2 separate regions of the Homo sapiens genome follow, and region 1 is linked to region 2. Evidence: fine-mapped expression QTL. A gene starts in region 2. The other region holds a variant in brackets. All regions are shown on one strand. Distances are from middle to middle.

Region 1 (15,668 bases), 76 kb before region 2:
ACGCCTGGCTAATTTTTTGTATTTTAGTAGAGACGGGCTTTCACCATGTTGGCCAGGATGGTCCCGATCTCCTGACCTTGTGATCCGCCCGCCTCTGCCTCCCAAAGTGCTGGAATTACAGGCGTGAGCCACCGCTCCTGGCTGCCAACACCAGCGCCTGTTCTAAGCCCCGTACAATGACCCTGTAGGATAGGTTCTGGCATTTTCCATCCCCATTGTACAGACAAAGGAACTGAGGCTCAGATGGGGCTCAATTACTTGCCCTAGGTCCCCCAGTGAGAGAGAAACTTCTACTGTACTGAATTTTGGAAGCTCTAACAAAGACTTAAGCATGCCCACTTCGCTGGAAGTGCACCATTAGGAACTTAGCCAAAAATTCCACTAAAAGGCAAATTATTGACTCCATTTTCAGCCCTTAAGACCTCTAGGCTGAGGATAGGATGGACGAAGGGCACAAAAGCCAGTGCAACCTGCCTTACCTGGAGATACTGATGGCAGCAGGAAGGCAGAGCGGTGGGCTGCACACTCCATGGAGCCGGTGGGAGCCCCATCCCTTCTGAGCTGGGGCAGTAGCTCCCTGGGTGCCGCTGCAGCTGCCCAAACCGTGGCTGCAGACCCAGACCTCCTGCTCTACGAAGCAGGCAAACGCCCCGCCCTCCTGGGCAGGGTTACAGCCACCCAAACTGCGGCTGTGGATCCAAGACTCGCTGTGCTCTTGAAGGGGGCCCGGGAGCAGGCAGGATCTGCCCTTGCGGGTGCAGCTGCAGTCCCCCAAACTGTGGCTGCAGACCTGGGCCTCCCGCTTCACAGAGCAGGCCGGAGCCGGGGACAAGCGGGAGTCCTGCCCCTTCCAGGTTGGTGGGACAGGAGCTCCTGGATGCAGCTGCGGCCACCCTCCCAGGCACAGGCCCAGTGCATCTCTGCAGCCTGCGTCCTCAAGGCGGCTGGGGAAGACCGCCCAGCCTCCTGTCCCTGCTCCTGCTGCCTGGTTTCTCTCCCGTCCTGGCGCCCACTCCGATACTGGAGCAGGGCTTAGGGCCGAGCCCCAGGGGTCATGAATGGCAGCAGGAGGCAGACAGATTCCTGGGTGGAAGCGGGGGACCCCAGTAAGGCCCCACCTTCAGGCCAGAGAGGGCCTGAAGGCTGGGGGCTGGGCTGCCAGTCCTGCGGACCTGAGTGCGGACTCATGGTGCCTCTTCCAGGCCCACCCATGGCCACCCATGGACCAGTGGGCATGCACTTCCTCCCCTCTGAGCGACATAAAAGCCCTGGGCTCAGCCAGAGCAAGAGAGAGGATGGCCAGAGCAGGGCAGAGAAGGTGAAGGACAGAGAGAGGACAGGAAGACCAGCTACAGAGAGAGGCTATCCTTTCTGCTCAGAGCTTCAGAGACCTGCAGAGACGTGGGAATAACCAGCCTCCTGGAGAGGAGCTACCCTTTCCAGGGCCTCCTCTCTGCTGAGAGCTGAACTGGATGGGCAACCTGCCTACAGAGATGAGCTACCCACTGCGGATCTCCCGAGCTGTTTTAACACTAAATAAAGCTTCTCTTTGTCTTCTTCATCCTTCACTTGTCTGAGTACCTCATTTAGAACTCAGGTGAAGGCCCATGAGCCACAGAAGTTTCCAGGAAGAATATCAACATCCTCCTCAAAGATCCCTTAACAATATCAGTAATCTTAGGACTCCCTTTCCCCAGAAGGGACAGCCCAAGAATGAAAGACACCCAAAGGGAAGGAGAGCCAAAGCCCTCGCACCCCAGAATACCACAGCGGTGGCCCCAGCAGCATTACTGGCGTCTGCTCCCCACCAGGCCTGGCCATGGCTTCCTTGGTAGCCTGCATCCTTGCAAGCAAATGATCTGCCTGCAGTGCACAGAAAGGAAGCCCGGATGAGCGAGGGCATGGCTTTCCTTCCCTCCCAACCGGTAAGGAAGGCCAGGAGAGACCTGTACTGTTCACCTCCATGTTCCTTGTGCCAAGAGAGTGTGTTTTGAAGTGAATTAAGGTGCCCTCGAAGACTAGAAAACAGGGAGGGATGGGCATAGTGGCTCACACCTGTAATCTTAAGGTTTTGGGAGGCCAAGGCAGGAGGATTGCTTGAGCCCAGAAGTTTGAGACCTGCCTGGGCAGCATGGTAAAACCCCGTGCCTACAAAAAAATATATATAAATTAGCTAGGCATGGAGGCTCATTCCTGTAGTCCCAGCTACCTAGGAAGCTGAGGCGGGATGATTGCTTGAGCCCAAGAGGTCAAGGCCATGTGGCTATGATCATGCCATTGCACTTTAGCCTGGGCGACAGAGCAAAACCCCGCCTCAAGAAAATTAAAGAAAAGAAAAAGAAAACAGAGAGAAAGGTCTCTTTCCAAGAGTTAAACTATAAAATCAGCTCAGGGCAAAGCAGAACCATGCGCTGTCACACTAGAGAAACAGCAAGGCCAACCATGACCTATTATGAGCACCAAAAACGTGTCTAAAGACGGCATGTGTTCCAGCCAGGTATGGTGGCTCGTGCCTGTAATCCCAGTACTTTGGGAAGCCAAGGCAGGTGGATCACCTGAGGTCAAGAGTTTGAGACCAGCCTGGCCAACATGGTGAAACCCTGTCACTGCTAAAAATACCAAAAAGTTAGTGGTGCGTGGTGGGATCCAAGCTACTCGGGAGGCTGAAGCAGGAAAATTGCTTGAACCCAGGAGGTGGAGGTTGCAGTGAGCCAAGATCGTGGCCACTGCACTCCAGCCTGGGCAATGCAGCGAGACTCTGTCTCAAAAAAATAAATAAATAAAAATAAAGGCAGCATGTGTCTGTGAGAAGGGGGTGGCCAGCTCTGCAAGCAGAGGAGAGGGCAACCAGTGCCAGAGACAGACCAGAACAGTGTCCAGCAGAGCAAGTGGCCCTGTCTCAGTTCATTAAAAGAAGAAATGCTTGACCTAACGGGTTCCGGAGGAAGGCAGGACCACACTGGGAGAAGACCACCACTTCCCAGGGCACAAGTCACTGGAATCCCTAACCGACCTCCGTCACGTGTGCCCACCATGAACCCAGGCCTGCCATGTCATTGGCCAGCAAGGAAAGAGGGCTGGTCAGGCCATACAGATCTCTGGTCTACCCGGCAGTATTCATTTTCACGGGTGATCTCTCGGTGAGTAGATATTCTGCCTCTGTCTCTGAGGGTTCTGGAGGTGTGCATTGGCCTTCCTGAGTCTGAGATGCTGACCAGGTAGAGACTGTGAGCCTGGGGCTGAGGGTTGGACCAGGGACTGTGGTGAACCCACCAGGGGAAAAACTGCTATCTGGATTCAGCCTCTCCCCTCAGTGTCTGCGAGTACTTTCCACCAGAAACTTCTACACAAAGCGGGTGCTGGGTATTGGATGGATAAGTGGACAGACAGACACACAGGCAAACAGAAGTGTTACTGCAAGTTGAAGCCTCCTGTCTGGCCCCTAAAGCTGAGCTTTTTCCACCATGTGTGCCATCTCTTCAGCCTTTTCCTCTCTCCCTGCTAGGACTGGCTCAAGGCCAGGACCTGGGGCTGCTCACAAAGTTCTTGCTGGCTGTTTTTTTTGTTTTGTTTTGTTTTGTTTTGTTTTGTTTTGTTTTGTTTTTTCTAGAGACAGTGTCTTGCTATGTTGCCCAGAGTGCAATGGCACAATCACAGCTCACTATAGCCTCCAACTCCTGGGCTCAAGCGATCTTCCCACCTCACCCTCCAGAGTAGCTGGGATGACAGGCATGTGCTGTCCCACAACTGGCTAACATTTTTTTTTTTTTTTGAGACGGAGTCTCACTCTGTTGACCAGGCTGGAGTGCAGTGGCGCGATCTCCGCTCACTGCAAGCTCCACCTCCCAGGTTCATGCCATTCTACTGCCTCAGCCTCCCAAGTAGCTGGAACTAAAGGCACCCACCACCACACCCGGCTAATTTTTTGTATTTTTAATAGAGACGGGGGTTTCACCACATTAGCCAGGATGGTCTCGATCTCCTGACCTCATGATCTGCCGGCCTAGGCCTCCCAAAGTATTGAGGTTACAGGCGTGAGCCACCGTGCCTGGCCAACATTTTTATTTTTTTGTGGAGATGGGTTCTTGCTACATTGCCCAGACTGGTCTTGGACTCCTGGGTTCAAGCGATTCTCCCACCTCAGCCTCCCAAAATGTTGGGATTACAGGTGTAAGCCACCATGCCCGGCCTCTTGCTAACCATTTAAGCTGGAGTCCAGCAGCAGGGACAGATGCAGTAAGCTTCATACAGTGGGGAAAGAGTCCCTGTCCTCACTGGGGAGGGTCCTGGCCTTACCCCTTTCCAGCTGTAGTACTTACCACTTAGAATGGGATAGAAGGTGGGGAGTGGTGGCTCACACATATAATCCCAGCACTTTGGGAGGCCGAGGCAGGCAGATCACGAGGTCAGGAGATCGAGACCATCCTGGCTACTGCGGTGAAACCCCGTCTCTACTAAAAATACAAAAAATTAGCCCGGTGTGGTGGCAGGTGCGTGTAGTCCCAGCTACTCAGGAGGCTGAGGCAGGAGAATGGCGTGAACCCAGGAGGCAGAGGTTGCAGTGAGCCGAGATCACGCCACTGCACTCCAGCCCGGACAACAGAGTGAGACTCCATCTCAAAAAAAAAAAAAAGGATAGAGTCGGGGACAAATTTCCGAGGGCAGTGTCCAACTGAAGGCCACATTCCACAGGCCACCCTTTTCTGGTGTCGTCCGTGGCTTCGTGACACCAGGAGATAGACGTTTTGTAGAAGATGATTTGTTTTTTTTTTTAGAAACAGTGTGAAGTCTCTACCAAGCTCTGGGCATCAGCTGGTCACATGTCGAGGAGAGGCACACAGTGCGGGCCACTCCTACCCATGGCAGTTCTCAGCATGTGCCTCGATGACCTCCACCCAGAGAAAAGCCTGGCCCAGGACCAGACAGGAGAAAATCAAATAGTGCAGTGCATGCTCCAGGGGCCTGCCCATCATGGAGTTCCAGGCCCTTCCTCATCCTCCTTCATCGTTCATGGGACTGCTCTAGCAGGGCAGAAGGAGCTGGGCCTTTGAAGTTCAGAGACCTCGGTTCGAGCCCAAGCCAGGGCTGTTGGGTGCAGTTGTGTGCCTTGTGCCCCACGTCTGTCTCGCAGGGTTCACCTGCCAGCTGTGCACCTACCTGCAGGGCTGGGTTTCCCCGAAGGTGCCAGATGGGCTACTGGGGGTCCATCAAGGCCCTGCCGTGACTCGCCTATGTGAGTTTGGGAAAGTCATGGCATCTTCACGCCTTGGTTTTCTCGCCTGTGACCTAGGAGTATGGTGATATTTGTTCCACCCTCCTTGCAGGTGTGTATGTGGTTCAGCCACATGTAAGACTTTGTGAACCACAGAGACCTTGGCCTGTGGACAGAAGGCACAACTCCCAGGCTGTCCTCGTAGTTGCGGCCTAAGCTCTCCACATGTCAGAGCCCGCTCCTGGCCTTCTCCTGGGACCTGGCCGTCCTCTAGGACTCTTTCCCCCTTTGTCATCTGCTCCTCCTTCATCCAGTTATTTTGCCTTCAAGACCTCTTCTCAGTTGCTGATACATTTTCTTTATTGATTTTTAAAACCATTATTGTAAAGATAACCAATGGTCTTGATTTGAACAAAAATTGAAGAGGTCTTGGAGGCAGAAGAGGAAAAGGAGAGGTTTCCCTTCCCATCAGCCACATCCTCCAGATGGCAGCTGGGGCCTCTCCATCCTACATCTTCAGCCCCGCATCCTAGAAGCCAGCTCCTTGTTCTCCCGAACAGCCCAGGACTCGACACACAGACCTGCCCAAGTGCCCCGCCACCCCACTCACGGAAATGAGCTTGCACGTACACCCTTAAGCAAGTAACGTCAACCTCACTGAAATGTTCATAGGGAAGGAAAGAGTTCACGGTGCACACCCCTCACCAAATAACATCCACCCTGTCCCTTGGTCATCTGTGGGCAGCAAGGTCAATACCCCCACCTGCTGGGGGAGGGAGGGAGGCTGCCACCCACATCCCACTTCCAAAGGGCTGGTTTAGGGGTGGAGTGAGGGTGGGGGCTCCCAGCTGGTGGTGCCTTCCAGAGAAGGAGCTGACTGGGGTGGGTTGACAGCTTTTTCTGATGTGTCAATAAATCACAAATCACTGCCTGAATCACCAGAACCAACTGTCACTTTATAAATTCCAATCCACAGAAACCCATTGCCCCTTCCCCAGCGCATTCCCTTCCTAAGGCAGCTGCCAAACATAAAGCCCTGGTTCTGGGCATCCCACATGCCTCTGCGAGTCTTTGGCAGCTCGAGTGGGTGCTGGGGTGGGCGTGGGGGAGAGAGTGCGGTGCTTTCTGGGTCTTTAGAGGAGATCAACCAGTGGCCAGGAGGTCTGGCTTCTGGTCCCAGCTGAGTCCTGACTTACAGTGGGACCTTGGGCGAATCCCTTTCCCTCTGTTGGCCTGCTGCCTCTAACCAGCATTTACTGAGCTCACTGAGTGCTGCAATTGACTTGTAATATGTCTTTGAGTCCTAACAATCATTCCATAAGGCAGTTACTCGCTATTACTGTCGTCTTTTTTTGTGATGGATTTAGAAGCCTCAAACATGCAGAGGTTGAAGAACGCGCCTAAAGGTCCTAAGGCTAGCAGTGGGCAGAGCCGTGGTCTCCAACCA[T/C]AGCCCTGCATGCGCAGCTGCCCATGCACTGGGCTGGGGGATTCTTTGGCGCAGTGGGAGCCTGTAACCTTTCTGCAAGGGATTTGGGGGATGGAGAGGAGACACAAATCATGGAAAGCACACTTTGGATTCCTGATCACTTAGGGAGGCCCTCAGGGTGAGTGGGGAGAAGGCAGGGGATGTCTCCACCCTGATTCCTGGAGTGAGAGCCTCCAGGGATTCCAAGTCCTGCCCAGGGCAAAGGCCAGGGGCCACTTCATGGACACCTTTGCCTCTCGAACCCCGCCAACCACAAGGTGACCATGGACTCCTCTCCCTCAAAAAATCAAGGCCCCACATGGCTGGCTCGGGCAGTCCTGCCCAGAACACAGGGGTGGCATGAATAAGCCCTGTGCCACACTGGTGCTGTGATTTGGGGGTTCAGAGAGGGTGTAGTCTCAGTACTATTTGCCCTTCACTGGGGCTCCTCTGCAGCGGGCATTGAGAACCAGGGGCCTTCCCTGGCTGCCGCAATCCCTGCAGAGACCCACAAGGAGGAGAGTCCCGGGAGGCCCTGGAAGCCTTGGTGGAGAGGGGACAAGACTCCAGTCCCTGCCACGTCATGCTTCCCAGGGACCCCAGCCAAGGTCCTAGGTTACAACTCATGGTTTCAAGAGACAGAGACCTGAATCCAACCAACTCAAGTAAAGGGGGCTTATTCAGAGGATACCGGGGCTGGTCACCACTGGGGTGCCTCAGGGACAACTGGAATAAAGGACTCAAACACCACAGGATGCTGCCTGTCCCTGCGCTCCCCATCTCTGAAGCTGCCTTCCTGCTGCTGCCTGGCCTCCTGTGCAGGGGAAGAGCAGGGCTGCCATGGCTCCAGCCATCGCCAGAGGGATATTGCCTCCCTTGCCTTAGCACCAGCCTAACGCATCCCAGACAGAGGCTGTGGTTGGCCAAACAGAGACCAGTAGCCCATTCCTGGCCCAATCAGCTTTGGCAAGGGGACAAGGCCATATGTCAGAAGCAGACCCGCCAGGCTTACCTGCATCCAGATCGATCCCAGAGAAGGAGACGCTCTGGGGACCAGGAAGCCACTCCAACTGGGGTCTGTTGGAGCCTCTCTGAGCCTTCATTTCCTCACCAGTGAATTGAAGTGATATTTGGCCAGCTCAGTGGCTCACGACTATAATCCCAGTGCTCTGGGGAGCAGAGGAAGGAGGATTGCTTGAGGCCAAGAGTTTGAGACAAGCCTGGCAACATAGTGAGATTCCATCTCCACAAAAATACAAAAAATAATTAGTTGGGCATGTGGTGCCGCTTGTAGTCCCAGCTACTCAGGAGGTTGCGGTGCAAGAATCGCTTGAACCCAGGAGTTTGAGGCTGCAGTGAGCCTTGATTGCAGCACTGCGCTCCAGCCTGGGTGACAGAGCAAGACACTGTCTCAAAACAAAACAAAACAAAGCAAAAAGGTGATAGGTACCTTCTTCATGGGCAACTGTGTGTTATTGATGAGATGGTGCATGCAGAAAGAGTGTTTGGTGGCTGAAAGGACTTGACAAAGATTAGCTTTGGATTATTGCAGCTGTTGATGGTGTTGCTAATCGAAGGACTTGCTCTGCCAAGGACTCCAGCAAGGACTGAGGTTCCTGCTATGCAGACTGTGGGTAGAGGCTTAGTGCTCCCGAGCCCTGCTTCTCCCATGGTCCCCCAGTGGCCTCCTGAGTGGGCCATGGCCCTGAGCTCAGAGGGCACCAGGACCCTCCCCAGGCCGGCTGAAGAGGCAGATTCCAGAACAGCCTCCTCCCCAGCTGGGAACACCTCCCCAGATCTCAGTTCCCTTGCCTATCAGATGGAGGACATCAGATCTGCTTTCCTCTTCTGCAGTGGTGAGGAACAAGCAAGAAGACATGAGTGGAAGGAAAAACTGATGTGTCTTATTAGCAGTTTATTGTTGTTATTAATTATCAGCTCCAGAAAACTGCTGGGATTACAAGCCTGTGTTTTCTCACATCTCTCTAAAGGCCATTACCACGAGGGGAGCCAGCAGACTTAATTTGTGAATGCTAGCTACTAAATTATGCAAAACCAGATCTGCTAATGAATTTCTCCCATGGTGGCGGCTGGTGCTGAGGAGTTTGCAGGTACACTTCTTGGAGAGAGGGGTGGAAAGGGGCCTGGGTATTCACTGTTCCACCTCCACACTCAGAACTCACCTGCCTTCACCCACCCCTGGGACAAAGGCTGCCTAAAATGTGAATTCCCAGCTGGGAGAGGCATCAAGATGGCTGAATAGATTATTTGGTCATTCAAAGTGGTTTTTGTTTTTTTCAGTTTGAATAGACTCAAATAGCTTGTCTCAGAAGGAAGAAAAAGGCTGCTGTTGAATTGAATGTAAGCCTGCAAATGACTTCTCTTTCTCTCTCTCTGCTCTATTTCCGAAAGCTATTTATAGATTAGAAGCCTGTCATTGCAAATTAGGGACATTTTCTTCCTCCCCCATCCTCTACTACTCCAGCCCCAGCTCCTTGAGGGCGGTGGTCACTGGGCAAGCCCAGCATCAGCACTGTGCAACGGGCAGCCTGTGCACATCCCCTTCTGAAGACAGCTGCCCCCTGCTTCCACTCCTGACTGTGAGCTCCTCTAGGAGAGGGGCTGGGTCCGCATGTCCAGGACCAGGCTAAGGCTGGACACAGGGTAGGCCTCATCACATCTGTGAGATGGGTGCTTCAAGGACAAGCTCAGAAACCTGCCCTGACTTATCAAGGCCAGAGAAGTTGATTCATCAGAAGGCTCCAGGCAGCTCACAGATGAAAAAGTGGGCTGTGTGGACTTTCCCAGCCTGGAGGAGGGCAGGAGTCAGGCCAGCCTGGAAACCTGGCGGCAGGAGCAGGACTTTCAGGGTCCAAATCCTCTCCAGGTGTTCTATGCCCAGTGGTTCAAATCCCACGGGGCCACACTCACTATGTAATCTCGGACACGTTTCTTAACCTCTCTGGGATTGATTTATCCTGTGTAATCGGGATCACAAAGCCTTCCTCCCCATCTCCCCATACCCAGGTGTAAGCCTGCTGCAGTCATGCTGTTCTTTGAAAAAAAAAAAAATTTTTTGAGACAGAGTCTCACTCTGTCACCCAGGCTAGAGTGCAGTGGCGTGCTCTCAGCTCACTGCAACCTCTGCCTCCCAGGTTCAAGTGAGACTCATGCCTCAACCTCCCGACTAGCTGGGATCACAGGCATGTGCCACCATGCCCCGCTAATTTTTGTATTTTTATTAGAGACGGGGTTTCACCATGCTGGCCAGGCTGGTCTCTAACACCTAACCTCAAGTGATCCACGATCCACCTGCCTTGGCCTCCCAAAGTCCTGGGATTACATGCGTGAGCCACCGCTCCCGGCCTATTCTTGAAATTTAAATGAAACTGGCAGGGACCTCAGATCCCTTGTCAATGGAAAACTGATATCCCTGTGCCCCAAGATTTCTGCGAATCCTTGGAGATTACATCCAGCCTCACTCAAATTTTTTTTTGCATTTCTGTTGAGCAACTAGATGATCCAGGCCAACCACAGTGGTTCATGCCTGTAATCCCAGCACTTTGGGATGCCAAGGCAGGTGAATCATTTGAGCCTAGGAGTTCAAGACCAGCCTGAGCAACATGGTGAAACACCTTCTCTACAAAAAGTACAAAACTTAGCTAGGCATGGTGGCATGCACCTGCAGTCACAGGTACTAGGGAGGCTGAGGTAGGAGGATCACCAGAACCTGGGGAGGTTGAGGCTGCAGTGAGCTGTGATCATGCCACTGCACTCCAGCAGACAGAGTGGGTGACAGAGTGAAGCCCTGAAGGAAAAAAAAGAAAGAGAAAGAGAGAAAGAAAGAGGTAGGGAGAAAGAGAGAGAGAGAGAGATAAAAGAGGTGGGGGGGGGAGAGAGAGAGAGAAATAAGAGAAGAAGGAGAGGAGAGGAGAGGAGGGGAGGGGAGGGGAGGGGAGAGGAAAGGGAAATTTACTTCCTAAATGGGCACCCTTCTTTAGAAGTGCCAACCACTAAAATAACAATTTTTTCACACTCAGTAAATGCAGATCAGATAAGTGCTTTGAAAACCACAAAGTACGGCCAGCATAGGAAGGTTATTAAACCCGTTCCTCTTAGTCCCATTACGGACAGCACTTCCTGGAAGGCATCTAAATGCTCTCTGCTCCAGCACTGTTGGCCTTGTAAGAGAACAGGAGCCTGTGGAATTTTCTGAAACAATCCTTTCAGGCTCCAAAGAACCCACTCCCATTATCTTGAATTAAATCCATTCCAACCATTGCCTTCCACTTTTTAAATTTTTGTTGGAAAATAATTTACATACAGAAAAGTACATCATTAACATTCACACCCGGTTCAAGACACAGAGCACACTCAGCTCCCAGAAACTTCCCTTCCAGTCACTCGCTGTCTCCAAAGCTGACCTCTAACGGCCGACATGCATGCCTGCTTCTGTATCTGTGAATGGAGTCCTACCATAGATGCTTTGCACTCAGCTTCTCCCACCCCACAAGACATTTGCAGGATTCAATCACGTGGTCGTATGTAGTTTAGATAATCATTCTCATTGTTTCATCAACGTCTCTCCTGTGGAAATAATTGTTTTTCATCTACTGTTGATGAGCATTTGGGTAGTTTCCAGTCTGGCTATCGTGACTAGCACTGCCTTGGACATTCTAGTCCATGTTTCTTTGGCACACATAGGGCTGTGTTTCTGTTGGGTATCTGCCTAGGAGTACAATTTTTGGTTCGTAGGGTAGTCATGTATTCTTTTTTTTTTTTTTTTTTTGAGACAGAATCTTGCTCTGTCACCCAGGCTCACCGCAGCCTTGAAATCATGGGCCTTGAAATCATGGGTGTCAGTGATCCTCTCCTCTTAGCCTCCTAAGTAGCTGGAACCACAGGCATGTGCTAACATGCCTGGCTAATTTTTTATTTTTATTTTTATTTTTTTGTAGAGATGAGGTCTCACTATGTTGCCCAGGCTGGTCTCAAACTCCTGAGCTAAAGCAATCCTTCTGTGTTGGCCTCGCAAAGTGCTAGGATTACAGATGTGAGCCACTAAGCCTGGCTGTGTTAATCTTTAATAGAACAAGTGCCAAATGGTTTTCATCCCATCTTTTCTTTCTTTCATGTTTTATTTATTTATTTTTGAGACAGGGTCTTGTTCTGTTGCCCAGCCTGAAGTGCAGTGGTGCAATCATGACTCACTGCAGCCTCGGCCTCCTAGGATCAACTGATCCTCCCATCTCAGCCTCCCGAGTAGCTGAGATTACAAGTGCACATCAGCATGCCTGGCTAATTTTTGTATTTTTTTTTTGTAGAAACAGGGTTTCACTATGTTGTCCAGACTAGTCTCGAACTCCTGGCCTCAATCCTTCCTGGCCTCAGCCTCCCAAAGTGCTGGGATTATAGGTGTGAGCCACCGTGCCCGGCCCGGCTTTACCCTTTCTTTAGAGTGTTTACTCTCAGATCACCTTCTGCAGGGAAGCGATGTTAAGTGGCTTGTTCCAGGCCACATGCCCAGCAGTGGTAGAGCTGAGATTTGAGCTTATGCAGGCTCCCTCTCAGAGTCTGTACTATTAATTGCCAGGCTACACTGCCTCCCTGTTTCTGAGAAGAGTCTAATGTACCATATAAAGTTGTGTGCAGTGAAAACCTCCTGAAAAGGAGCCCTGAGCTTAGGGCTCCTTAGGGGTTGTGTGGAATATTTTATTTTTATTTATTTATTTATTTATTTTTGAGAGTGTCTCGCTCTGTCACGCGGGCTGAAGTGCAGTGGCGCCATCTGGGCTCACTGCAACCTCTGCCTCCCAGGTTCAAGTGATTCTCGTGCCTCAGCCTCCTGAGTAGCTGGGATTAACAGGCATGTACCACCACACCCAGCTAATTTTAGTATTTTTAGTAGAGACAGGGTTTTGCCATGTTGCCCAGGCTGGTCTCAACTCCTGGAGCAATCTATCTGCCTTGGCCTCCCAAAGTGCTGGGATTACAGGCCTGAGCTGCCGTGCCCAGCCGGGGAGCAGAATATTTTATAATGGGCAGTGGGCACATCTGCTTTTCGCTCCAGGAGGAAACATTAACACTCACCTCTAAGGTTGTTTGTTGTACAAACATCCTAGAAAGATCACCTAGAACCAAGGCACCCTCTGCTCACGAGATGTGCAGACATGTGAGGCCCATGGAGGATTGTCTCCTAACAGCTGCCCCAGCCTGGACTTTGGGCTGCAGCCACATCTAACATCTGCTGCCTCCATCACCAGCAGAGATGCCGCGGCTGCCTACAGAGCCAGAGGGAAGGGAGACTGTCGTGCCATCTGGAGGCAGCCCATGAGCAGCTATGGGGCCAGTCGCCACCAGGCCTGTGGGCCCTGGAAAGACTATGGGCTTTGGCAGGGCGCGGTGGCTCATGCCTGTAATCCCAGCACTTTAAGAGGCCAAGGGCAGATCACCTGAGGTCAAAAGTTCAAGACCAGCTTCGCCAGCATGGTGAAACCCCATCTCTACTAAAAATACAAAAATTAGCTGGGTGTGGTGGCACATGCCTGTAATCCCAGCTACTTGGGAGGCTGAGGCAGAAGAATTGCTTGAACCTAGCAGGTGGAGGTTGCAGTGAACAGAGATCGCGCCACTGCACTCCAGCCTGGGCAACAGAGCGAGACTCTGTTTCAGAAAAAAAAAAAAAAAAACAAGACTGTGGGTTCTGAGGGCACCAGCTGCTCCCATCCAGGGCCACACCCAGGCCTCCAGGAAATAGCCATTGTCCCCTCTGCCCTCTGCCTCCCCCTGAGGTATCCTCTGCCTCTTCTGGACCTTCTCTTTCTCGCTTTATTCTCTCTTCATTGCTTTGCCTTTCCTGCTGGCTTTTTGCAGATCTCTCTCTCTCTCTTCCTCTCTTGATGATTTTATCTCTGGGGCTGTATGCAAACTTTAGAAAACAAACTAAACACATGCACACCACGCATATGAGAAAAGAAGAAAGCGAGGATCACCCACAATCCCCCCACCCAGAAATAACCACAGTGAACATTTTGGTCAGCATCTCCCCAAAGGTTTCTCTTTTTTTTTTTTTTTTTTTTTTTTTTTGAGACAGAGTCTCGCTGTTGCCAGGGCTGGAATGCTGTGGCGCGATCTCGGCTCGCTGCAAGCTCCACCTCCTAGGTTCACGCCATTCTCCTGCCTCAGCTTCCTGAGTAGCTGGGACTACAGGCACCCACCACCATGCCCGGCTAATTTTTTGTATTTTTAGTAGAGACAGGGTTTCATCGTGTTGGTCAGGATGGTCTCGATCTCCTGACCTCGTGATCCGCCCACGTCAGCCTGCCAAAGTGCTGGGATTACAGGCGTGAGCCACTGCGCCCAGCCCAAAGGTTTCTCTATAGACATAGCCACATATGTCACATATCCACACATATCAACATACTCACCACAAAACTGGGATCCCATGTAGACAGAGCTCACGCTTCCTGAGCTACTCCGGAGAAGAGGAGGCCTGTGGAGGCCACAGGGCCGGGGAAGACTTTCTTCCCCTTGAGAAAGAAAATGAGAGAGAACTTGGGACCACTGCTAGCTGCATGGAGCCTTGATCTTCCAGGACACCAAACCAGCCTGTGTCCCCTCTCCCAGCTCATCCCTGCCAGCAGGGTCAGGGAGAAGGTTTAGCTGTGAGGGTCCTCGGGATAGCGACGGAGGCAGGACCACATCTGCTCCCCTCAGCCTTGAGCAGGCTTCCAGGAGGAGGTGAGACCTCCGTGCACATGGCAGGGTCTCCATGGATTGTGGAGCAGAAGACTGACGGGAGTGTGTGGGCGGGGTGGAGGGATACATGTCTGTATGAGTGTGACCACACACTCACACAGACCTCCATCTTCAGTCCAGCAACCACTGAGGGAGGGAGCGGTCCTGCCACAGCCGCACAGCCACTTTTCTTTTTTTTTTTTTTTTTGAGACAGAGTCTTGCTCTGTCGCCCAAGCTAGAGTGCAGTGGCACAGTCTCAGCTCACTGCAACCTCGCCCTCCCGAGTTCAAGCAATTCTTATGCCTCAGCCTCCCGAGTAGCTAGGACTACAGGTATGTACCACACCAGCTAATTTTTGTATTTTTTGATAGAGATGGGGTTTCACTATGTTGGCCAGGCTAGTCTCAAACTCCTGACCTCAAGTGATCCACTCACCTCGGCCTCCCAAAGTGCTGGGATTACAGGTGTGTGCCACCGCACCCAGCCTTAATTTTTGTATTTTTAGTAGAGATGGGGTTTCATCATGTTGGCCAAGCTGGTCTCGAACTCCTGTCCTCAAGTGATCTGCCCGCCTCAGCCTCTCAAAGTGCTGGGATTACAGGTGTGAGCCCACATGCCCAGCCCCCTTTCCTTGGACTCAAACCTACCCCAACTCCCATTCTTGGATGTGCCTTAATCCTCAATCCCACCCCAGGTTGAGCTGAGAGGGCAGCCTGAGGCTGGAGGGGCTGGGAAGGATTCATGGGTTTGGTGGGAAACATTTAGGTGGTTTATAAATTTTCACTATTACAAATAATGCGCTTCCAAGGTTTTCATTGTTTTATTTTATTTTACTTTACTTTATTTTTAGAGACAGGGTCTTGCTCTGTCACCCAGGCTGGAGTGCAGTGGTGCAATCATAGCTCACTGCAGCCTTGAACTATTGGGCTTAAGCCAACCTCCCACCTCAGCCTCTTGAACAGCTAGGACTATAGGTGCACACCACCATGCCGGGCTAATATTTTTTTAAATTTATTGTAGAGACGGGGGTCTAACTGTGTTGCCCAGGCCGGTCTCAAACTTCTGGACTCAAGTGATCCTTCTGCCTCAGCCTCCCAAAGTGCTGGGATTACAGGCATGAGCCACTGTGCCCAGCCTCCAAGATGTTTAAAGCACCATACTTGTTACAAGAAATTCAGACAATAACCAAGTTCATAGAATTACATCAGAAATTCTCCCTGAACCCACCCCGACTTCAGTTCCACTCTCCACAG
Region 2 (15,668 bases):
TAATCCCCACTACTTGGGAGGCTGAGGCAGGAGAATCGCTTGAGCCCGGGAGGTGGAGGTTGCAGTGAGCCGAGACCACACCATTCCACTCCAGCATGGGCGACAAGAGCGAAACTCTGTCTCATAAAAAAAAAAAAAACAAAACAAAAAACCGTACGAGTTTGAGACCAGCCTGGGCAACAGAGCAAGACCCTGTCTCTACAAAAAATAAAAATATTAGCCAAGTGTGAGTTGGCACACAACTCAGGAGGTTGAGGTGGGAGGACTGCTTGAGCTAAGGAGTTTGAGGCTGCAGTGAGCTTTGATCTTGCCACTGTACTCCAGCCTGAGTGATACAGTGAGACCTTGTCTCAAAAATAAATTTAATTTAAAAAATATTTCCTTGAATGTTAATAAATTAACATGAACTTTTATTTTCACCCTGCCCTCATTTCTGCCCAACATCTAATTCTATCAGTTCAAAGGTGAAAATATATCCAGAAGCCGATTCCTCACCAACTCAACATCTTCTATCTTGGCCCAAGTCACCTCTCACCTAGGTTTTATTACAATAGGTTCTCAACACAGCTAACAGAATGATGTGTTTAAAATGCACTTATGTCTCTCCTCTAATCAAAATCCTTTAATAGCATAGCCAGGAGTGGTGGCTAACACATGTAATCCCAGCATTTTGTGGGGCTGAAGCAGGCGGATCACTTTGAGCTTAGGAGTTTCGAGACCAGCCTGGGCAACACGGCAAAACCCTGTCTCTACAAAAAATATAAAAATTAGCCAGGCATTGGTGGTACATGCCTATAGTCCCAGCTACTCAAGAGGCTGAGGCTGGAGAATCACTTGAGCCCAGGAAGTGGAGGGTGCAATGAGTGGAGATGGCGCCATTGCACTTCAGTCTGGGTGACAGAGCAAGACTCTATCTCAAAAAAAAAAAAACAAAAAACAAAAAAACCAAAACCCTTTAACAGCTTCCCAGCTCACTCAGAGTAAACATCAAAGTCTTTATAGTGGACCTGATTGAGTCCCCGACAACCTCTCTGATGTGAGCTCTTTCCAAGATCTCCCTACCTTGCTGCTACCCAGTCATACTGGCCTCCTTCCTCTAACAAACCAGGCATGCTCTGCCTTAGGGCCTTTGCAGGCCCACTGCCTCAGCAATTGTTTTCTCACATATCCTCAAGGCCCTGCTTCCTCTAGATCACTGTTCAAATGTCACCTTCCTCAAACACCTTAAATAAAAATTGTTCCCAACCCCAATACTCTCGTTTTCTCTACAGCACATAATACCATCTGATATGCTATGTATTTACTTATTTACTGCCTGCCTTCCCCACTAGATGTACATTCTGTAAAGGCAGCGATTTTGTTTCGTTTATGGCTGTCCCCTATCCTACCAAACAGTGCCTGCCACATAGGAGGGTCCACAACACATATTTGTTGAATGAATGAATCTATAGATAAGTGAAAAAAACTCAGATTCAGATTCTCGCACTCAATTAACACAGAAGACTTCTGTGACCAAATATGTGGGGATTTCTCCCCACCAACAAGCAAGCAATCAATTATACAGTAGACACCAGGTAGGTGACCTCCAACTCAATTCTGACACTATCTACTTGGTAGCATCAGATCCCACAGGTTGAGGGCTCAGTCGCCTCACTTCTGATACCAATAGCAAGCCCCAGGTTGTTTCACCTGTGTCTCTGACCAGCTGAATAGAAATTAGGGTTCCCATGAACCCTTCCTTGGGTTTGATTAATTTTGCTACAGTGGCTCACAGGACTCTGGGAAACACATTTACCAATTTATTATAAGGAATGTTACAAAGGATACAGATGGAGGGATGCACAGAGCAAGGTATGAGGGAAGGGGCTCAGAGCTTTTATGCCCAGGTGCCCCACCCTCCAGGAACCTCCACATGTTCAGCTATCCAGGAACTCCAACTCTGTCTTCTTGGGCCTTTTATGGAGACTTTACTGGACAGGCATAATTGACAACCATGTAAAAATGTGACTGGACAAAAAGGTATGATCTAATATTAACAGACTGAGTGGGGAAACCCAGCAAGGCCTGTCTGCTTAGATTCCTCATGGCCTCTCTGTGCAGCACTCCCTTCTTGAGGATATGGAACAGGACCCCTTCAGAAATGGAAGTCTCATGACCTACAATCAGACAAGATAGGTCAGATAATTCCTTCTCTTCTCATAATTAAAAATATATTTTTTTAAAGATAGGGTCTCACTCTGTCACCCAGGATGGAGGGCAGTGGCACAATCATAGTTCACTGTAACTTTCAACTCTCGGGCTCAAGTGATTCTCCCACCTGAGCCTCTCAAATAGCTAGGATGACAGGTGCACAACACCCAGCTAATTTTTTCTTTCTTCTTTTTTTTAGAGATAAGATCTTGCGGGCCGGGCATAGTGGCTCACACCTGTAATCTTAGCACTTTGGGAGGCCGAGGCAGGCAGATCACTTGAGGTCAGGAGTTCGAGACCAGCCTGGCCAACATGGTGAAACCCCATCTCTACTAGAAATACAAAAAATTTGCCCAGCATGGTGGCAAACACCTGTAGTTCCAGCTACTCGGGAGGCTGAGGCAGGATAATCACTTGAACCTGGGAGGCAGAGATTGCAGTGAGCCAAGATCGTGCCACTGCACTCCAGCCTGGGTGACAGAGTGAGATTCCGTCTCAAAAAAAAAAAAAAAAAACAACTCGCTATGTTGCCCAGGCTGGTCTCAAATTATCCTACCACCTCGGCCTCTTGAAGTGCTGGGATTACAGGTATGAGCCACCACTCCCCAGCCCCAGCTAATTTTAAAAAATTTTTGTAGAGACGGGTCTTGCTATGTTGTCCAGGCTAATCGAATTTTTTTTTTGAGATGGAGTCTCGCTCTGTTGCCCAAGCTGGAGTGCAGTGGTGCGATCTCCGCTCACTGCAAGCTTGGCCTCCCGGGTTCACGCCATTCTCCTGCCCCAGCCTCCCAAGTAGCTGGGACTACAGGTGCCCACCACCACGCCCGGCTAATTTTTTGTATTTCTAGTAGAGACGGGGTTTCACCGTGTTAGCCAGGATGGTCTCGATCTCCTGACCTCGTGATCCACCCACCTTGGCCTCCCAAAGTGCTGGGATTACGCGCATAAGCCACCACGCCTGGCCTTTATGTATATTATGTATATATTATATATATATTACAGTGGTAATGAGGTGTGTGTATATATATACACATATATGTGGAAAACATATATATTCATATTCATATCTCATATTATCACAATAGACATATCTTCTCCACTATTTTTCCCACACTAATTGTTAGATGGCTAAATTTATTGGGTCAATTTCTCTGCTTACTATACCACTGCAATTATATAAGCAAACTGAACCTTTGGAAAATGCTAATTAATAAGGCAGGGTTTGACACGACTGGGTTTGAAAGGCCAGCAGTGGGGCTAGAAATACCTACCACATACAACTGTGCTGCCCCATCACTGAATAATCTACTTTAAGCACTGAAAGAAATTCAGAGATTATTCAGTGATCCAAGTCCCACAATTTTTTCTTTCCAGAGTACCAACAATCATCAAATTATGTGGTCCTGACACCCTCATAACAAGAACCATCAGTACCTTCTTCTGTATCCCCCCAAAATATTTTAACCTGCATCACTTACTCTATACATTCAAACCTAGTTAAAGCAGAAAGCAAAACTATTTTCTGACTGCCTCAATGATATATCTGGAGTTGTCTAAGTAATGGATTACACAGTTCCCAATTACTTGTGAACAGTATCAATGGTCTTCAAAAATACTACAGTTCCTATACCCCCCGTCCCAGTCCATATCCACCTCCTCTCCATCCCAACCCTTCACAGTTACACAAGCATACTAAATCAAAGCAAAGGAATTGAACACCAATATAAGCCTGGCAGAAATCTGAAATCACTGCCGCCTCAAACTTTAGATCACTGCAGCGCTCAGGTGTACTGTGACTCAGCATTTTACAGTGCCTGAGACATGAAATGAGATAAAGGTCCTTTTCCCTTCACAGCATTGGCTAAACATGAAGCCAAAATAAATATGCTACCTCAAAACAGTTAGTGGCTGGAACATTACAGTGCTCACACTGACACAGGTTTATCTCAGTCTGTGATCCTTGGGAGGAGACCCTGTGTCAGTTTAAGCACACAAAGTTCTTCTGAAATAACTCGAGCTATAAAATTAGCAAATTATGCTGACTACAATTAATACCCAGAAATGGAGAAAATATTGCAAAGAAATGAAAATGAAATTCAAAAATAGTTACTGTGGTTACTGGTCTAGTCAGGTAAAAAACTAAAATAAAATAACAAGAACAAAAGAGGGAATTTACCCAGCTACTCTTCATTACAATATCAGAAGCTAAAATGGCATCAAGAGAGAATTTTTTCCTCTTGCAAAAAAAAAAACTGAGTAAAACTGAAACAAATAGGAAACTCCAGCCCTTTTAAACTGTTCATGGGCAGAAGGAAAATAAGATAAAACAATATGAAACAAATAAGATAAATTAATATGAAGGTTGCAACAAAGACAGATTTTCAGTTCATATTCTTACGTGGAGCAGGAACTAACAGAGAAATGAGACGAGAGAAAATGATAACTGACAAGCAAGGAGATTTGGGAAGATGAGGTCATGAAAAGGGACGGAGGGGCATTCCCCATAGGTAATGGAAGAAGTCAGGGAATCCCAGTAGAAAAGCCAGAAATTTAAATGAGCAAAGACAACGTAAGCATATGGGCCAAGAACAATAGTTTATACTTAATTTCTTTTAGCTTCTTAGTAATTTTTTAAATTTTAATTATTTATTATTATTTTGAGACAGGGTCTCACTCTGTCACCCAGGCTGGAGTGCAGTGGTGTGATCTTGGCTCACTGCAACCCCCACCTCCTGGGCTCAAGGGATTCTCCCACCTCAGCCTCCCGAGTAGCTGGGACTACAGGCGTGCGCAACCACCCCCAGCTAATTTTTGTGTTTTTAATAGAGACGGGGTCTTGCCATGTTGACCAGGCTGGTCTCGAACTCCTGACCTCAAGTGATCAGGACTTGAGGCAGGAGTGATCCCGCCTCAGCCTCCCAAAGTTCTGGGATTACAGGCCACTGCGCCCAGCCCTAAGTAATAGAAATGTATAACTCTTTTAAACCAATGATATAAAAAATAACAAGCCCCATCTTACACCTGAGGAAACCTCAGAAAAGTTAAGTAACTTGCTGAAGGTCACATTGTTCCTAAATGGCAGAGTCAGACTACCAACCTACACAGTCTAACCTCGCCATAACTTTACACCGTCTCTTACGAACATCTCAAAATGTGAAAAGTAGAGAATTGGATTTTACAGCCGTGCATGAGGATGACGTCAGCATTTACACGGCAATGGCGGTTGGCAGAGGCAGTGGCTCAGGCCTGCAATCCCAGCACTTTGGGAGGCCAAGGTGGGTGGATGATTTGAGATCAGGAGTTCGAGACCAGCCTGGTCAACATGGTGAAGCTCCACCTCTACTAAAAATACAAAAATTAGCCGGGCATGGTGGTGGGCGCCTGTAATCCCAGCTACTCGAGAGGCTGAGGTGGGAGAATCACTTGAAGCCGGGAGGTGGAGGTTGCAGCGAGCTGAGATGGCGCCACTGCACTCCAGCCTGAGCGACATAACGAGACGCTGTTTCAAGTAAAAAAAAAAAAAAAAAAAAAAAAACAAAAGAGTTCGAGATCCTACCACAAAAGGTACAAACGAAGGGTGGTGGGAACTCGAATGAGATAGCAGTGTTCACCAGTGCCCAGTAAAGGAAGACTTCACAGAGGGAGCAGGATTTCAGATGGGATTTGAGGAAAAGGGTTTAAGGACTATTAATGACTTATCACTGATTACTCTTAGGGTTTTCAAGCTAAATTTCAGAGTCCTTGTCATGGAATTCAGGCCCTCCACAACTAGGTCAAAGGGAACGCCAAGGAAGAAACATTATCCTGAGTGAGATGCTTATGCTGAAGTCTTTGCTATCAGTTCAGGTTCCAAGGGATCAGAAAACCTTACTTTTCTGTCTCCATAAACCGTAAATGGGTTGAAGGCAGGCACTTTTGTAACACTCCTCTCCCCGGACCAGGCCTCTGTACATCATAGCACTTGGTAGATGCACAGCATACTTTCTGAGCGAAACTAAAACGAATGTAAATCAAGTCACCTGGTGGCCAGACTTGCCTTACACCATCTAAACCTCTGGTGTTAGCTAATTTTAAAGCTATCAAGTAAGAGGCTTAAACACGTGGTCCAGATGCAACATGTGGACCTTGGTTTGGACCCGGATGCCACAAACCAATTGTAAAAGGACATGAGATCATCTGAAAAACCTAAATATGGACTGGGAATTAGATTAAGGAATTGTTAATTTCATTAGATGAGATTACATCGTTATGCCTTTAAAAGTTGTCTCTTAGATATTAAATATATACACTTAGGGTATTTATGAATGAAACGGTTTCCCTTAAAACACTAGAAATGTATGGTGGAGCCAATGAAACAGGTAAAAGGTAGCTAACTGCACTATGGGGAGTAATATACTGCTTCTGCTAAATGTTTCAGAATTCTCATAATATAAAACACAACATACACACACACGCGCCCCCCAGTTTTTTTCATCGTAAGCCCCGAGGGAGCCAGACCCAGAGGGTCCACCGACGTCCCGGATTCTAATAACGACATCTGCGCGCCAGGCGGGCCTCCTGCGGGAGCCGGGGCCCATTTTCTTTCGAAGCTAACGAAGCTGCTGCGCAGGCCTGTTAATTCCCTCAGCAGCCAGTGCGAGGTTAAACACGCGACCTCGCAACCATGGCTTTTGAGAGGAAGCTGAATTCCTGGGGTGCGCCGTGCACAGTTCTTCATTTCCTACGTTGGCCCTGCCCAGCCGCCTGGACCTGGAGGAAAACAGAGAACCTGGCCCACTCTTCAATACTTCGACCCCAGTGGCCGCGCCTCGGGCGCTCGGGGGCGGGCTCTGCACAGCGACGTCACGGCGCACCGTGCGCTGGGTCAAAGTTCAGCCCCGCCCCCGCTTCCCCCTCGCTGTCTCCCTCGGCCTGTGCCGCCGCCGACGCCGCTTGTGGGCCCGACTCCGCTCTGTCTGCTTCGCCACCTTCTCCCCGAGCACTGCCCGGCCGGCCGCCATGGCTAACGTGGCTGACACGAAGCTGTACGACATCCTGGGCGTCCCGCCCGGCGCCAGCGAGAACGAGCTGAAGAAGGTATCTGGGAGCGGGCCGGGCGGGTGTGAGGGGCGCGGGGCCTGCGCGGCCAGGGATGTCTTCTTCAGCCAGGCCGCGCTACTGGGCTGCCCGCGAGCCGGCGCCGGCCGTGACTGGCCCGGGCTGGGAGTCGGCGGCGGCGGCGGGACCGGCCTCGCCGCGAGCCGCGCACTCCGGCCTCGGCTGACCTTGGGGCCGCCGGCCCCGCCCGCCCGCAGATGCAGCAAATAAAACTCACTCCTGCGCAAACACGATGGGAGCCCTTCCTTCCTCCCTCCTTGAACGAGCGCCGGGGGCTGGTATCCCCCGGGAGGCAGCAGCTCGCCCGGTCCTTCGCGTCGAGGTCACCACCCCGGAAAAACAGGTTGGACCGAGGTGCTCAGCGCATCCCGGCCCCGAGAGAGAAGCTGTCCGCCCCGCGGCCGTCGGCCCCGGGTCTGGTGCTCCGCGGGGAGGAACGGCGGGGAGGTCGAGGCCGCCCCCACAGAGCGCCTCGGGCGGATGGGGTTGTTTCCTGGGTTCCGCGGCCGCCGGCTGCGGGAGCTCCTCCCTCTCTGCGTCCCTCGCCCATTGACCCGGAGGTAGCTGGGTCTGTGTTTGGATGCATTGTTCTTTGGGCAGGTAATGCTAATGTCCTGTACCTGCTTAGGAATAAGCCGTGGTCCCAGCCAAACGCCTGAGTGTACAGTAAACATAAATAGAAGGCCTTATTATTGCTATTTGCAATGCTGCGATATCTTTCATCTCAGGATTTCAAAGCACACGAGGCATTTAAGCCCCACAGCATCCTCACCAGGCTAAGAGCATCCAGATTTGTAAGCCGAGAAAAATGAGAATGCTCCTTAGGCAGTGAGAAGAGTACAGTGGACTTCCTGTTACCTTACCGGAAATGCTAGTCTGTATTATATAATTCACGAGCCTCCGTGAATGAAGATTTAAGTGCTTTAGGACCCAAACACCTCGTTGAGAGTGTGTGCAACTTCTCTACCACCGAAGTTGCCACCACGACCCCAGTTAACCACCACGTGCAAATAAAACACCAAAAGACGCTAACTAGGACCACCTTTACTTTTTCATGATGTTACAGTTAGAAGGAAGGCGTGAGCCATCGGGAGCAGGAATTGTGACTTTAGCTTGATTTATAGTAATGTTTTGCAGTCCGCAAAGCTTAACAGTCATTTATCTCGAATTTATTAGGGTCGTCTTGGTCTGGTTACTTGGCCATCAAAGACACTTGACAATAGGGAAAATATGGATAATGTTTGAACGTTTTGTTTTTCCCTGTGGCATTGCTTCATTGTTTTATCTGGTTTTCACGTCACTGTAACCTGTTTTCAAGTATAGCTGCTGTCTACTTGGTTATATTACATTAGTAAACAGTATCGCGAGAAAGTGCCGAAGAATCCCTACGAATAGAAAATATTTTTGAAAGGTTATAACTCTAGAACATTACTTCTCAGAAAAGTGGATATTAAGTTATTACAAAACTTTTAACTGGTGTTTAGTTATAACCTTTTTTGTTTTTATCCATTTTCAAAGGCATACAGAAAGTTAGCCAAGGAATATCATCCTGATAAGAATCCAAATGCAGGAGACAAAGTAAGTTATTTGCACCTTTTTTATTCCGGGGGTTTTAGCTTTAACTTAAATTGCCCTCCTTGAAAAAGAGGAATGTTGCAGGAAAAAAATCCAACTATGCCCACACAGCCACATTTTCATAATGTCAAGAGTATTTTAGTTTTAGAATAAGAGTACTACCATTCTGAGGAGCGGTGGGTGGTAAATAGAACCAGAATCAAGTCAAAGGTAACTTGTCCCTTTTTTTTTTTTTTTAGAATTAAATGGATTCTGGATTCCTGTAGCTTCTCCCCACTCTTCTACTTGAAAATGCAATTATTTTTATTTTTACCTTTTCTTTATAGTTTAAAGAAATAAGTTTTGCATATGAAGTACTATCAAATCCTGAGAAGCGTGAGTTATATGACAGATACGGAGAGCAAGGTCTTCGGGAAGGCAGCGGCGGAGGTGGTGGCATGGATGATATTTTCTCTCACATTTTTGGTGGGGGATTGTTCGGCTTCATGGGCAATCAGAGTAGAAGTCGAAATGGCAGAAGAAGAGGAGAGGACATGATGCATCCACTCAAGTGAATATCTTGTTTTGTTGTTTTAAAAAATTAAGTACTTTTTGTCAAGTGGGATAATGACTCAGTAGATGAAAAATCTCATAGAGTGTTCTGTCCTTCATTAGAAAAACTTCCATTTGCCTTGTCTTCTTTTGGTGACTAAATTGAATTTGATTATCTGAATGTTTCTATTTCGCTGTAGCTCTTAAAAGGACAGTCGATATTTTTTAATGAGAGGAAGGTGGTTTTATATGGTTCTGAGGCTGCTTGTTATTATAGGACTTAAAATTTCAACTGTGAAGATCATTTTCTCTCTCTCTCTTTTTTTTTTTTTGAGACCGAGTTTCGCTCTTGTCCAGGATGGAGTGCAGTGGCACAATCTCAGCTCACTGCAACCTCTGCCTCCTGGGTTCAAGCGATTCTCCTGCCTCAGCCTCCCAAGTAGCTGGGATTACAGGCATATGCCAACACACCCGGCTAATTTTGTATTTTTAGAAGAGATGGGGTTTCTCCATGTTGGTCATGCTGGTCTCGAACTCCCAACCTCAGGTGATCTGCCTGCCTCGGCCTCCCAAAGTGCTGGGATTACAGGCGTGAGCCACTGTGCCCGACCTTTTTTTTTTTTTTTTTTTTTTTTTTGAAATGGAGTCCCTGTCGCCCGGGTTGGAGTGCAGTGGCACCATCTAGGCTCACTGCATCCCCCTCCTCTCAGGTTCAAGAAGTTCTCCTGCCTCAGCCCCCCAAGTAGCTGGGATTACAGGCACCCGCACCATGCCCGGCTAATTTTTGTATTTTTTAGTAGAGACAGGGTTTCGCCATGTTGGCCAAGCTGGTCTTGAACTCAAGTGATCTTCCTGCCTCATCCTCCCAAAGTGCTGGGATTACAGGCATAAGCCACTGCGCCCAGCCTATTTTCTTTGAAGTATATGAATCTTCCAAGTTACCTTTTATTTAAAAACTAAAAATGAGTGACTGTCTGCCTACTTTGTGTACATGTTAGAGTCACTCATTACTTGATCCTCAGTGTGAACTCTTCTGAGTTGGTTTCCATGGAGCTTGCTGGCTTCCAGCCTGACCTTAACCTGCCAACACATGAATGGTGCCTGACCTTGGTCTTAGACTGTGAATCCACAAGCCCTCTCCAGTATGAAAATAGCTGTTTCACTTTGCAAAATCTGGGAGGTCTTTTTTCCCATTCTTTTTTTCATGGACCAATAAATGATTTTATTAGCAAATGTCAGTGGCCGAAGTTCAGGTACTTATTTAAAATATTTCATAATATCCTAGTTTATACACTTGAGTAAATTAGAGGAAGTCATGTTATCTGTTAACTTTGAGTCTCATTGAATCCTTAAATTTGTTTTTTAAAAGAATTTACCCTCAGAAATTAACATTTGGATACCATTCCAATGGTAATATTTGTGCAGTGCAGGTTAATTCGTTTATATTTTTCTTTAATATAGAAATGGTCTAAAAAGAAAATAGGGTCAAAAGAGTGCTGTCTGTACTTTATAGTTCTTCATGTTTAAAAAAAAGTTATGCTATATAGTGAAAGTTTTCTGCTGTTTTAACATTTCAGATTTTCCTGTTATTACAAATACTATGTTTATAATACTGCATTCTATGATTTATTTACCTTTTATATAGGGTATTCCCAGGTTTTTTCTCTGTAATAGATACTGCTGCTATGAGTATCTTTATGTAGAGCTTTGTTTCTCCTTGGCAGAGATTCCCAGGCAGGCATGAGTGTTTTGAGGCTGATAAATACAACTAAATTGCCTTGCAGAGGGATTGTGCCAGTTTAGGCCCCACTAGTGGAGAGTGCCAGCCTTGCCAAACCATTACCTGCATTTTTCCTTCCTTGGCCTTCTTTGTTGAGATGTGTATTTTTCTCTGGCTTAGGATACTGGTTGTGCATACCAATTGTAATTTAATATGTAGGGGAAGAAAGCCGATTTTCTTTAAATGATTTGTTATGCAGAGTATACAAGATGCAACAAGCGTTTTGGTCTAAAGCTCAGCTGTTGATAGGTCATTATTTGACAGTGTTGTTGGTAATGTTTTGTCCATACGTGTGGTATTCTTATCCTGCCTACAACAGTTTTAAGTTTCTGAGAATAACAATTTTAAGAAAGTTTGAATATCACAAAATAGTATAGGTGCTTTGTAAAATACTTTAAACTATTTTTTTGTTCCTCTAACTCCCAGGATTTTAAAGCAGATCATTACGGGATGACCATTACTAATCTGAAATCTGAAATGCTCCAAAATATGAAACTTTTTGAGCACCATCATGATGCCACAAGTAGAAAACTCCACACATAAGTACTTGTCTCACTCTGTCCCCCAGGCTGGAGTGCAGTGGTACGATCTCAGCTCACTGCAGCCTCAATCTCCAGGGCTTAAGCAATTCCCCTGCCTCAGCCTCCTGGGTAGCTGGGACTTCAGACATGCCACTACACCTGGCTAATTATTTTTTATTTTTTGGTAAAGATGAGGTCTCTCTAAGTTGCTCAGGCTGGTCTTGAACTCTGGGCTCAAGCAATCCTCCCTCCTCAGTCTCCCGAAGTGCTGGGATTATAGGCATGAGCCACTGCACCTGGCATGAAAAACTATTCTATCCCTCCTTTCTGTCATACTATAGGTAGGGCCACTTTTATTTTTTTTAAGACATATGCCATCTAAGTGACTCCCTTAAGCCGAAATATAACTTTGTAGCCTTTCTAAATTGTCCATGGAGGAAACAGGGACTCTGGAGCCAGATACCTATGTGATCTTGGGCAAGTTACTTGACTGTTCTGTGCCTCAGTTTTATCACATAAAATGGGAATAATAATTGTACCTCTTCTGAAGGGTTTTTATTAGGAGTTAGGTGGAGGGCTTATGCCTCAGAACAGAAGGTTGTGATATTTGAGTTTGCGAAGTCATCAGCTTTATCAGAAATTCCACCACAGCAAATTGTTGGCCTGATGCTATAGGCTCTGGCTTTGGGTATCATATATGTACTGTCTGTAGTCATAAAATATTTCTGTTAATTTGAGCCATAATATAAGCCTCAGTTTAATTGATTTAATGTGAGATTATGAGGTGTTTTTGAATTCTGTTTTAAAAGTTGATAACGAATTTGCTGTATCAGCTGTTACTTATATCTTGTATTTGACAAAATGTGGCAAAATTTGATTGAAGCCGATTCTTTTCTTTCCAGAGTATCTTTAGAAGATCTGTATAATGGCAAGACAACCAAACTACAACTTAGCAAGAATGTGCTCTGTAGTGCATGCAGTGGGTAAGTGTGTCTTCTGGTTTATTGGGTACATTTTGTCTGTTCTTTTAAGTATCACACTGAATGTCTGTACCACGTAAAAATTGTTATAAGTTAAAACTTACGGCTGGGTGCGGTGGCTCACACCTGAAATCCCAGCACTTTGGGAGGCCGAGTCGGGTGGATCACCTGAGGTAGGAGAATCGCTTGAACCCGAGAGGTGAAGGTTGCAGTGAACCAAGATTGCGCCACTGCACTCCAGCCTGGGTGACAGAGTGAGACTCCATCTCAATAAATAAGTAAAAAAATCTTAGCAGAATGTTTTCTGATACTTCTGGAAGTCAATTTAAATACAAGTTATTGGGGTTGAAGATGAAGGTAAAAGCACAATTTCTGTGTGTCATAGCTTATTGGAGTGGTTTGTGGACAAAAACCTAATGCATAACTTGTGCTTGCTTTAGCCAAGGCGGAAAGTCTGGAGCTGTCCAAAAGTGTAGTGCTTGTCGAGGTCGAGGTGTGCGCATCATGATCAGACAGCTGGCTCCAGGGATGGTACAACAGATGCAGTCTGTGTGCTCTGATTGTAATGGAGAAGGTATGTGTGCCAGTACTTCTCTGCTTTTATGTTGGAATGGATTGGGAATGCAGATATTGGAGAGGTTTACAATTTTTTATTTCAAAGGGTATTTGTATACATCTTATTAAAGAAAAAGGAGGCCGGGTGCGTTAGCTCATTCCTATAATTCCAGCACTTTGGGAGACAGAGGTGGATTGCTCGAGCCCAGGAGTTTGAGGCCAGCTTGGGCAATATAGGGAGACCTCATTACTATAGGAAAAAAAAGTGTGGAAAAATATGTAATGAGGGGCTCAGGGCATGTCTGTGGTCCCAGCTGCGTGGGAGGCTGAGGCGGGAGGATTGCTTGAGCCCAGGAGTTCGAGGGAGCAGTGATCTGTGATCATACCAGTGCACTTCAGCCAGGGTGACAGAACAAGACCCTGTTGCAAAAAATAAAAGATAAAAGTGTGAAAGTAATTACTCCATTATGCCTAAGCCCAGTGAACATAGAGAAACAGTAGATTTGTATTGTGTTAGTGAAAGGTGACTCTTTTTAATTCAGAAAAGAGGAGCAAGGTGATTATTTGTCCCTTTGCTATTTCCTTCTTTATCAAATATAACCTTTTATTTACTCTCTCTGTAGGAATGACCACCATAGGAGGACTATCTCCTTTATCACATAGAACCTTTTAAACTACAAAGGGACAAATAATCAAATAATAAATAACTAAACAAGTAGTTGTTTAGTTATTCTGATAAGTGGAAGATTTCACTGTAACCTTTAGTTAGCTTTTCAGAATTGATCTTGAGATTGAAGCTGTCCTTACAGAAGTAAATAATTTAGTCTTTGTGGGCCAAATAGTTTTTGTCACAACTACTCATCTCTGACCTTTTAGTGCTTTTATGGCCACAGACACATGGATATGGCTGTGTTCTGATTAAAATTTTAATTATAAAAACACATAGCTCCTCCCACCCCTGCCATTCTAGAGCAGTGCTATCCAATAGAATTTTTTTCTGTGATGATGGAAATGTTCTGTATCTGCAGTGTCCAGTACAGTAGCCATTAATCACCTGTGACTACTGCATATTTCACATGTGGCTAGTGTGACTGGAGAACTATTTTAAATTTGAATTAATTTAAACATAAACAAGTAGCTACAGGTTGATAGTGGCTACCATATTTGACAGTATAGTTCAATAGCATCCTTTTCCAAATTGCTATTGGAAGTGATGAGATAATTATGAGAAGTTACATATGATATTTCCTTCCTGGAGAGTCTTGGCATTTTACTTTATTTTTTTAAATTATTATTATTTTTGGAGATAGGGTCTTGCTGTCGCCTGGGCTGGAGTGCAGTGGCACACTCTCGGCTCACCGCAGCCTCCACCGCCCACGCTGAAGCAATCCTTCCACCTCAGCCCCTCGCCCCACAATTAGCTGAGACCATAGGTGCTTGCCACCACGCCCAGCTAATTTTTGTATTTCTTGTAGAGATGGGGTTTTGCCACGTTGCCCAGGCTGGTCTCGAACTCCTGGGTTCAAGTAATTCTCCTGCCCCAGCCTCCCAAAGGGCTGGGATTACAGGTGTTAGCCACCACTCTTGGCCTGCTTTTATTTTATTATAATTGCTAACTCCCACTATCAAGAAACCAAAGTTAACTGAAATCTTTCTCATGTACCATTACATTTTTCTTTTTTCTTTTTTTTTTTTTTTTGTGAGACGGAGTCTTGCTCTGTTGCCCAGGCTAGAGTGCAGTTGCGTGATCTCAGCTCACCGAAGCCTCTGCCTCCCTGGTTCAAGTGATTCTGCTGCCTCGGCCTCCTGAGTAGCTGGGATTACAGGCGCCTGCCACCACGCCCGGCTGATTTTTGTATTTTCAGTGGAGACGGGGTTTTGCCGTGTTGGCCAGGCTGGTCTCAAACTCCTGACCTCAGGTGATCCTCCCGCCTTCGCCTCCCAAAGGGCTGGGATTACAGGTGTGAGCCACCATGCCCGGCCACTATTACCATTTTGAAGAACGTGTTTTGCAGAACATACTTTGCACAAGTACTGTTACAGAAACAGTCCCTAAATAATCAGTTATACACTTCTTTCTAAGCCTTCAAATGTGCTGGTAATTAGCCATTAGAAAGTGACGCAGTTTTTTCACACTATAATATGTATAATCACGGTTTTGCTTTTTAATACCATAATTATAAGAGAAAAGCTGTGTTGCCCTAAACATGGTATGGATACATTACATTCTGAAATAGTGGGAAGCTGAGTCCTTCAGGCAGTCTGCAGTAGTAAGATGTAAGTTTTTGTTATTCAGAATAGTGCTTTTTTTTGTTTTGTTTTGAGACATGGCCTCACACTGTCACCCAGACTGGGGTGCAGTGGCATGATTATAACTAACTGCAGCCTCGAACTCCAGCAGTCCTCCCTCCTCAGCCTCCCCAGTAGCCAGGATTACAG

Evidence for each region. PIP is the estimated chance that this variant, and not a neighbour inherited with it, causes the effect. A credible set is the group of variants that fine-mapping cannot tell apart.
Region 1: its variant is the best candidate, but not a certain one, in a credible set for the expression of DNAJA2-DT in spleen (GTEx, PIP 0.90).

What each region holds. Positions count from the first base shown.
Region 1 is chr16:47,040,690-47,056,357 of GRCh38, reverse strand. No RefSeq gene overlaps it. Among named protein-coding and RNA genes, the nearest start is that of DNAJA2-DT, 75 kb to the right of the region's middle. RefSeq lists a silencer at 3,374-3,574 and enhancers at 9,284-9,333, 9,344-9,423. The variant T/C (reference allele first, on the strand shown) is at 6,660.
Region 2 is chr16:46,965,093-46,980,760 of GRCh38, reverse strand. It overlaps DNAJA2-DT (DNAJA2 divergent transcript), which reads right to left and starts at 6,989. Exons shown (of 2, transcript NR_186372.1): 1 at 6,636-6,989; 2 at 1,778-2,156. DNAJA2 (DnaJ heat shock protein family (Hsp40) member A2) reads left to right here and starts at 7,087. Exons shown (of 9, transcript NM_005880.4): 1 at 7,087-7,266; 2 at 8,806-8,865; 3 at 9,189-9,412; 4 at 12,597-12,677; 5 at 13,115-13,248. The coding sequence starts at 7,189. RefSeq lists enhancers at 6,676-6,765, 6,826-6,895, 14,860-15,585 and silencers at 7,326-7,375, 7,406-7,485, 7,636-7,685, 7,716-7,785, 8,136-8,215.